Regions from separate parts of the Homo sapiens genome. Here region 1 is linked to region 2. The links come from fine-mapping of genetic effects on gene expression. A gene starts in region 2. The other region holds a variant in brackets. All regions are shown on one strand. Distances are between the middles of the regions.

Evidence for each region. PIP is the estimated chance that this variant, and not a neighbour inherited with it, causes the effect.
Region 1: its variant is the best candidate, but not a certain one, in a credible set for the expression of BBIP1 in whole blood (TOPMed, PIP 0.50).

What each region holds. Positions count from the first base shown.
Region 1 is chr10:111,007,166-111,011,165 of GRCh38, forward strand. It overlaps SHOC2 (SHOC2 leucine rich repeat scaffold protein), which reads left to right. Exons shown (of 9, transcript NM_007373.4): 6 at 366-488; 7 at 2,083-2,220; 8 at 2,548-2,665. Among named protein-coding and RNA genes, the nearest start is that of MIR548E, 20 kb to the left of the region's middle. The variant G/A (reference allele first, on the strand shown) is at 1,912.
Region 2 is chr10:110,916,932-110,921,462 of GRCh38, forward strand. It overlaps BBIP1 (BBSome interacting protein 1), which reads right to left and starts at 2,249. Exons shown (of 4, transcript NM_001195305.3): 1 at 2,190-2,249; 2 at 1,190-1,282. The coding sequence starts at 1,226. It overlaps SHOC2 (SHOC2 leucine rich repeat scaffold protein), which reads left to right and starts at 2,673. Exons shown (of 9, transcript NM_007373.4): 1 at 2,673-2,726. RefSeq lists silencers at 1,583-1,742, 2,593-3,032, 3,043-3,132 and enhancers at 1,874-2,413, 2,103-2,302, 2,323-2,372.

The DNA of each region.
Region 1 (4,000 bases), 90 kb after region 2:
CTTTATTTGAGCATTTATATTTTATTCAGTGATTTCTGCATATTGTGAAATTGTAAAAACATCATATTTATCATAGGATCTTTGAAATCTCCAGTGTTTCTCTGTATACTGTGTTTTTCTATTTCCATTATAATCACATAAGGAACAAACTTCCAGTTTAACTCCCAAATAAAAGCCTCATTACTGTATAAAAAACTTTGGAGGCTTAGAGTTTTCTGTTGCTGATTTTTTTTCTTTCTATATTTAAATATCAAAAAGGGGAATAAGATTTTGTTTAATTAAGAATTCTCTTTCCGAAGTGACAGGTATATATAGAACTTTGTTTTTGTGATTCTACCTTGGATGCTTCTTTTTGTCTTTGCCAGGACAATCAGTTAACATCACTTCCCTTGGATTTTGGAACTTGGACCAGTATGGTAGAATTGAATTTAGCCACTAATCAGCTCACAAAGATCCCTGAGGATGTGTCTGGTCTCGTTTCTCTTGAGGTTAGTATAAATGAGCAATTAGAGAACTTCAGAACCTTCCATACGTATCTCATTTAAAAATTTCAAATTTAAATAAGCAATTTCTATTTGGGTGAATGTCATAATTAGAAATGTTAGAACTCACTTAAACATACAACCCTAATAGGATAATGAAGTGTTGACTTAGGTAGTCTAGATTCAGTGCTTTTGAATTTCTCTTGCCTACTACAAGTTGGTGTCTTTGAGTGCCATAAAGTATTAATATCTCTAAAAGAAAAGTTCTGTAAAAGCATCTTTTAGAACAATTTTTTTCTTTATTCTGTTTAAAAACTACACCATTGTCTACCAAAATAATTATCGATTCTCAGACTGTCATTTAGAATGCTTTATCATACTTTTTCATCCTAATTACCGACCTGCTATTTTATTTACTCATTGATTATTGTCTTTGTTGTAAATCTGGTATGCCTATTTCTAGCCCTCTAATTTTAGTCCTATTGTTTTCTGTATCTAGAATGCCCTCTTCTCATCCCCTTAGTTTTTTTCTTTTAGTATGTTTTTCCATAATTAAAGATCCATCTTATTTTCACCTCTTCAGTTAAGGATGATTTCTCCTGCTTCTGAGTTCCTAGAGTTTTCATCCCTTTGATGAAAATGCTTACTAATAGTAAATATATTGCTTTTTAAAATTTCCTTCATATCCATGTTTTTTAAAGGTCTAATTTTTAAATTATTTAATAAGGTGAAATAGTATGGTTTAATGGCTAAAAACATGGGCTTTGAAGTCAAACAAAGCTGAGTGTAATTATCTCTGTATATTTATGTACTTAACTTGCCCAAGCTTCAGTTTCTTAAGCTGTGAAATGGGGATAATAAGAGTATCTACCTTGTAGAGTTGTAGTTAGGATTAAATGCAATAATGCACATAATGCATTCAGTACAGTGCCTTGCAAATAGTAAAATCAAGTGGTGACTGCTGTAATTATTTTCTCCATCTTACTGTATATATTTATTATGGGTGGTGTAACATTAGGGAAAATAAATGAACATAAAAACTTACCCAGAACCTTACGTATCTGTTTTACCTATTGCTCTTTCTCCCAACCCAGTATTGTCTCCTTACCTTTCTGCTAGTTTGTAACTTTATCGGAACAAAGGCTATCTTCTCTGCCATTTTAACCCCCTTCAGTATCTTCCAGGATGCTTTCAGTGTAATAAGAACACCACAGATAATAAATAGAGTGGATTGATATAGCAAGTTTAGAAGGTAGCTTTTACCTTCCTTAAGTAATGGTTTGTAAGGGATTTTGAATAAATAGTTTCCTATTAGATAAACATTTGTAACTATTGAGCATTTTTTTGAAATTTCATTAAAATTAAATTGCTTCTTTTGTTTTCATTAGTTTTGATATAATCAAATAAAATCTCTTTTCTAATAACTATG[G/A]TGTTTTTTTAGAAAAGTAAGTTAAATATTTTATATGTTATATAATTGAACATCACCCTTAATATTCACTGTTTGGAAAATTAGCATTGCTTAATAGATTTTAAGCCACACAATGACAGTATATAATTTCATTTCATGATTTCCTAAACATTATCAATAATTTCTCATTAGGTTCTTATCTTATCAAACAATCTTCTAAAGAAGCTTCCCCATGGTCTTGGAAACCTTAGGAAGTTAAGAGAGTTGGATCTAGAAGAGAACAAATTGGAATCCTTGCCAAATGAAATTGCATATCTTAAGGATTTACAGGTAAACATTATGCTGATTTTGTAGTTTTATAAAGTTTTTGGAATCTGTTCCAAATTCCACATTTCTCTTAAGATTTTGATGTAATTCTTGGATCAGATAGACTTTCCTATTCTAGTATTAGGGCTGAGTTTTATGTTCATATAACCTGGCTTTGTTTTCCTAACAAATGGTATTTTGTGAAAGAAAAATATGTAATGTAAGTGATTCTCATTCTATCCAATCTGGTTTCCCTGTTAATTTATTTTATTGTTTAGACATATTATTTTCAGTTTACATTAAATGTAGGAAATATATTTGTAACTCTCTTTTATTTTGTAAATCTTTTAGAAATTAGTCTTGACAAACAACCAGTTGACCACTCTTCCCAGAGGCATTGGTCACCTTACTAATCTCACACATCTGGGCCTTGGAGAGAACCTACTTACTCACCTTCCTGAAGAAATTGGTATGAACCCTGTGAATGCTTGACTCTGTACTAATAATTTGCTCTTGTGCATTCAAGCAATATTTCAGATAAATATGACAAATCTATTGTTTTTTAAACTGAGGTTATATCAGGCTTAAGATTTTTTTTTTTAATAGAGCACCGATGGTTGATTGTTGATTGGTTTTGGTTAGGTTTCCTAAAGGCTGTTAGGATTGGTTTTAAAATTAGTACTGTATTTGAGAATGTTTTGGAATACTTACATTTCCAATAGGTTTTATGTATAACCTCATTTTAGAAGTTATTTTATATTCCTTCTAAATTTAAAATTACACAGGCTTGAATTAGTAATGTTTTATGCCAAAAGAACATTTATGAGATTTTAGAATTAATATTAATATTTAACCAATATTAACATTTGGGAATACTTAACATTTTCCAGGTGTTTTCATTTCCATTATTTTATGTAATATACATGACCACCTGGAATTTTAGACAGTGCAAGTTGTAATCTTGCTTTATAAAGAGAATTACTTGATTAAGGTAATTAAATGTTAGCTTTTAAATTAGTAATTCTATGCATTAATGTTTTCCCATCTATAGTGCACTGTCCCACAGGAACTATAGGTTAGTAAACACCGCATGTTCTCCTCATAGGTGGGAATTGAACAATGAGAACACTTGGATACAGGGTGGGGAACATCACACACCGGGGCCTGTCGTGGGGTAGCGGGAGGGGGGAAGGATAGCATTAGGAGATATACCTAATGTAAATGACTAGTTAACGGGTGCAGCACACCACCATGGCACATGTATACATATGTAACAAACCTGCACGTTGTGTACATGTACCCTAGAACTTAAAGTATAATAAAAAAAAATGGTTTTGGAGATAATTGACAATTCAAAATCTAGCCCTGCTGCTTATTGGCTTTGTGACTTTAGGTAAGGTATGTAAACTCCCTAAGCCTCAAGTTTCTTACCTGTAAAATAAAGATGATAATAGGAAGTTCTCACAAGGTTGTTCTGAAGCTTAAATAATATCTTACATGTAAACAAATTGATTACATACTAGCTATTATTTCTGTTATTTTCTAATAAATGCCACTGTGAAATATTCTGAATTTTGAAATTTAAAAATTGGAAACACATGAGGCAAATTTACACCTATATTTCTAGTATATTTATTCACCTGATCTCATTTAATTGCTTGAGACATTTTCCTAGAGAATACAAGTATCCTAAGAAAAAATTTTTAAAGGTCTACATAAGTCAGTTTTTGGCTTACTGCCATATATGTGATAACTCTTAGTGAAAGGTTCATATTAAGTAACAAATATTTTGCACATAAGAAAT
Region 2 (4,531 bases):
AACTCACGGCAAAGTGCGTATAGCTGCGTTTGAGAAGGCTTAGTCATGACTAGAAAAGTGTGAATACTGTGACATATCCTTGCAAAAAAAATGTTCAGCTTAAGCCTCTAGACTAACTTCTGGTTTACAAGAAGAAAAAAGAGGGGCCCATTTCCAAAAAGACTCCTGCCTTGAACTCTTCAAAATGCCAATGTCACAGGGGGAAAAAAGATGGGGGAACTCTACTACATTAAAGCTAAAGAAAAATTTTGACTGGATCCTGATTTTTTTTTTTTTTTTTTTTTTTTGCAGGATTGGGAAGGAGAAGGTATAAAAGATATTCCTGGGTAAATTAGGAAAATTAGCACTTGGCCTAGATTTTAAAAGTTACAAAACAGCTGAAATAATGATATTGTGTTTTGCTGGAGAACTTCAAAATTCTTAGGAAATTCATGCTGGAAATCTTAAGGGTGTCTTGCCTAACAATAAGTGTCTGCAACTTTTTATGACAATGAAAAAGTGGGGAGGAATGAAAAAAAATGGCAAAATGTTAACTGCTGCATATAGATGATGGGTACATGAATATTCATTAAATTATTTCTTTCAGCTTTTAAATATATGAACACTTTCATAATAAAACACTGGGGAAAAAAATCATGTCAGAAAGACTTCACAGGGGAAACGTAAAACAAAGATTGAGTAGCAGGCGCTCAGCTGAATTTCTGATAAATTGAAGGTCTCTAAAACTTGGCTGGAAGTGTCTTGGGCATCCAAGAGACACCCGATATATTCAAACTTTCAGTAAGTATTTACCAAAATAATATCATGTGCATGGTGAAAATGACGGGAAGACGAATCTGATACAAACCATTCTATTTAGGTGCAGACATGGTAGTGAAGCTAAAAACATAAGCGCTATTATATATATATAACATACTGATTGTCATAAAAGATGTACAAAAAATGCTAAACTCAGAGGAAATTACTTCCTGCTGGGAAGAATCTGGAAACACATCTCCACGGGTAACAGAATCAGATACAGAATCACAAAAGGTGACTGCTACAACAGATTTCAGTAATTAACAGCAAAGAAACAAGAGTAGTTCATTTTGGCTGGCGTGTAAGTACTAAGGAAGCAGAAATTAAGTCGAGAAGGTAGGTTTGCATCTGTATTGTTGACTGGCTGGATATTAACCATTTTCAATTTTACCTGAAAGTTCTGGTCTTTTTGCTGCAGCTTTAAGCATCCAACCCGGTATTACCAAGATGACTTAGAGTTCTTGACTCAAGCATACAGAAGAAACTACAAGATAATGTATGATAACTTTGTAAAGGGCCATATAAAAGCAATACAGTATTTTCAAAAATCTTCAACACGTTGTTTAAGAAACTGTAGACCTGCAGGAATCCCACCACCAGAACCGCAGTCAAAGCTTACAAAGACTCAAAGGAGAGACGCGGAAAGGGGGGAAAAATCAGAATGGGAAGGCAGGTGGCAGGGGAAAAAGATTGAGGTCCTGCCCTGGTGGTAGGGGCTCATCTTTTCCTTTTATAGGTGAAGGTGGAAAATGATTTTCTGAAGTTCCCGAATTCTCCTCCCTCCAAAGGCCAAGGAGTGAAAGTACTTAATAGGAACTTGCGGAGGCGTGGTCAAGAGCTCCGTTTTGCCGGAGTTAGGAGCTCCGCCCCGAGGTCCCCGCCCATTCCCCGCTGGGGTCCTCCCGGCCGGGCTGCCTCTGGCTGGGTTAGGGCGGCCTGTAGAGCGGCCTCACCCCACAGGGAGCCTCACGGGGGCGGGCCGCCGCCAGGCCAGCCCGGAAAAAAACCGCCTTCCAACGGAAGCGGCCCTGAGCCCCGCTCGCCATTTCAGCGCTCTGTCCCACAGGGACCGTCCGGCCCGGGTCCGGCCCACTGGTTGGGGTCCACGGACTCACCTCACTTTGCAACTAAGGTCAAAAATAAGCATTCCCTGGGGCACGGGCGGCCAGGCTATTAACACCCTTCCGCCATGACCCAATTCGGAAGTGCCAAATGCAACTTCCGGGCAGGAGAGGGAATTTCGGAGCCCTAAACTGTTGTCCATCTCCGTAAGTGACCAGACGTCTCAGTAAAATAAGGGCCAGGAAACTGGACGTGTAATCCGGAGTATGAATTAACTTGTCTAACATGGGATGTGTGGTCACCCACGGTACCTCTTTGGGCTTACTTACAGATGCATCCCTTCCCAGACGGCTCAGCTGTTGCCCCGGGTAACGGTGAGACTGGCGAAGGAAAAAAATCTACGTCACCCTGGAAACAGGAAGCCAGGAATCTCCTTTTGCCATTATCAGTTATGGCCGCCTTAGCTTCAACAGTAACTTCCGATCGGGGAGTTGTCACTCTACCCTGCTGGAGGCTTACTCTGTAGCCCGGCTAGCCAGAGGCGCCCAGTGGGCGGGAGACGGCGTAGAGGAACTGAGGAAAGGACAAGGGCGGAGAGAGAGAAGCTGGCGGCACTGCCCGTCTCTGATTGGGCAGCTTCTCTTGCCCCGGTTCCGCCCATTTTTCTTGCCTAGCGAGTGACGGGCCCACGGCAGAGGGGTGGGGCGGGGAGGCTGGAGCGAGAGTAGTGGCGGGGCGGGCGGGGCGGGGCGAGTGGGGGAGGGGCGGGCGGGGGGCGGCGGTTGGGCAGCGTCGCTTCTTAGGAGGAGGAGGAAGAGGAGGAAGGAGGGCGAGCGAGGAGGATGGCGGAGTCGGGGCTCCTGACGGTAACTCGGGGCCGATGAGGCGGAGGGTGTCTGTTGGTCGGTTCTTCCTGCCTGCCTTCCTGTCCGTCGGGCAGTCGGGCTGGCTGTCGGTAGGGGGAGGCCCCGTGCGCCCTGACAGGCGCGAGCCGGCAGCGCCGGGGCGAGGCCCGAGGGGCCGGGGCCCTGGGAGGCGCCGCCGCCGCCGCTTTCCTGGTTGCTGTCTCCGGGAGTGCGGGGCCCTTGGAGCCGGCTCGCGTGGGAGCCTGCAGCCCGGCGCGGAGAGGAAGGCGGTCGGGTGTGACAGCGGCCGGGGCCGGGCCTGCGGCGGCGGCGGCGGGCGGCCCGGACAGCGCCTGGGCGACGGCGAGCCGGCGCGAGGGCGCGGGCCGGGGGCCCCCGGCGGACAGTCTCTCTCCTCTCGGCTCCCTGGGCCCCCGGGCCCAGTCCGCAGGGCGCCCCGAGTCGTGTAAATCGTTGGCGAGGGCCCGGGCGCAGCGGCGGTCATACAGGGTGGGGTCTCTTCTCGCCCCCTCCCTGGAGTCCACCTTGCTCTCCCGTTCTCCTCTCCCTAAAAACCCTTGAGTGAAGAGTGCTGGATCGGCTCTGGGTGTGTTGCCTAGCGAAGCGAGTTGTAGCCCTTCGAGACCGCCTCGTAGAACATGCCCGATGGCAACCTCTCCCCGTGATAGCACAGCTTTTAGGGAGAGAGGAAAAGTAGTCTCACTCTTCCCCGACTTCCCCAGGCTCATAACACAAGAGGCTTTGGGGCAAGACGATTTTTCCCCCAGCACCTCAATATCCATTGTTTTTGTACCATCCCCCTCCCCCCATGCCTAGGTGGAAGAGTAATGACTCCAAAGCATTAACTTGCCTTTCTCTTTATTTCTTTTCTTTCTTTTTCTTTTCTTCCTTCCTTTCTTTAAGCAGGCAGTTTGTGTTATTGTGGAATTATGGATTTACAAACAGGTGGAATAAATACCGATTCGGGAGCTAGAAAGAAGATGCTTTGTGTGTGTGTTTAAGCCCTTACAGTTGGCAGTTTGATTTTTCTTGTCTGTTGCTTTGTATCGTAATGGGGGTGATGAGAATAAAAGAGGAAGCACTGTTTTGCAACCTACCCAAAGAAATATTTTCGAAGTCTCTGGGGATGCTGAAGCAAAATTAGGTTGCAGATGTGGACTGTATAGTATTTGCCTCCAGCGTGATAACTACCAGCAGTGTCTAGGCTTACACCTGTGCCATTTCGTATACTTTTCTTAGATACCGAGTGCGTCTAGTTTCTACTCAAGAGGGACTACTATATCAAAAGCTTTTTGTTACGGTTTTCAGAATCCTAAGGTACATTTGTGTAACCAAGTGTTTTTGTAACTAAATGCAGCAACACCACTGAAAAATAGTTTTAATTTTAAAGACCTCAATTTATTAGTGTACTTACTAATCTTTACCCTCATCCTCCATGCTGTGGACTGTAGAACTGTTACTGTGTACTTGAAGAGACTTAGCTATTGCATCCAATTTGTAACATTCAGTAAGGTTATATTTATAATTTGAATTTATCAAGTGTTGATGTTTTGCTGTGTGACAGTGAAAAGAATTTTAGGAATAAAGTATGCAAATGACCATTCGCCACATATGGAACTTAGACTGAGTATGATAAGCCTTTTGTCTTTATTTGGACATAAAGTATATTGTAAACTTTTTATGTAATTATAAATACACATTTGAAAAATAGACAAAAATAAACACAAAACTGAATAAAAGTTTTGTCTAAGGTTTGTAACTTTCAAATGTCTGAAATTTAATATAAAGCCAACATATAAAACAAT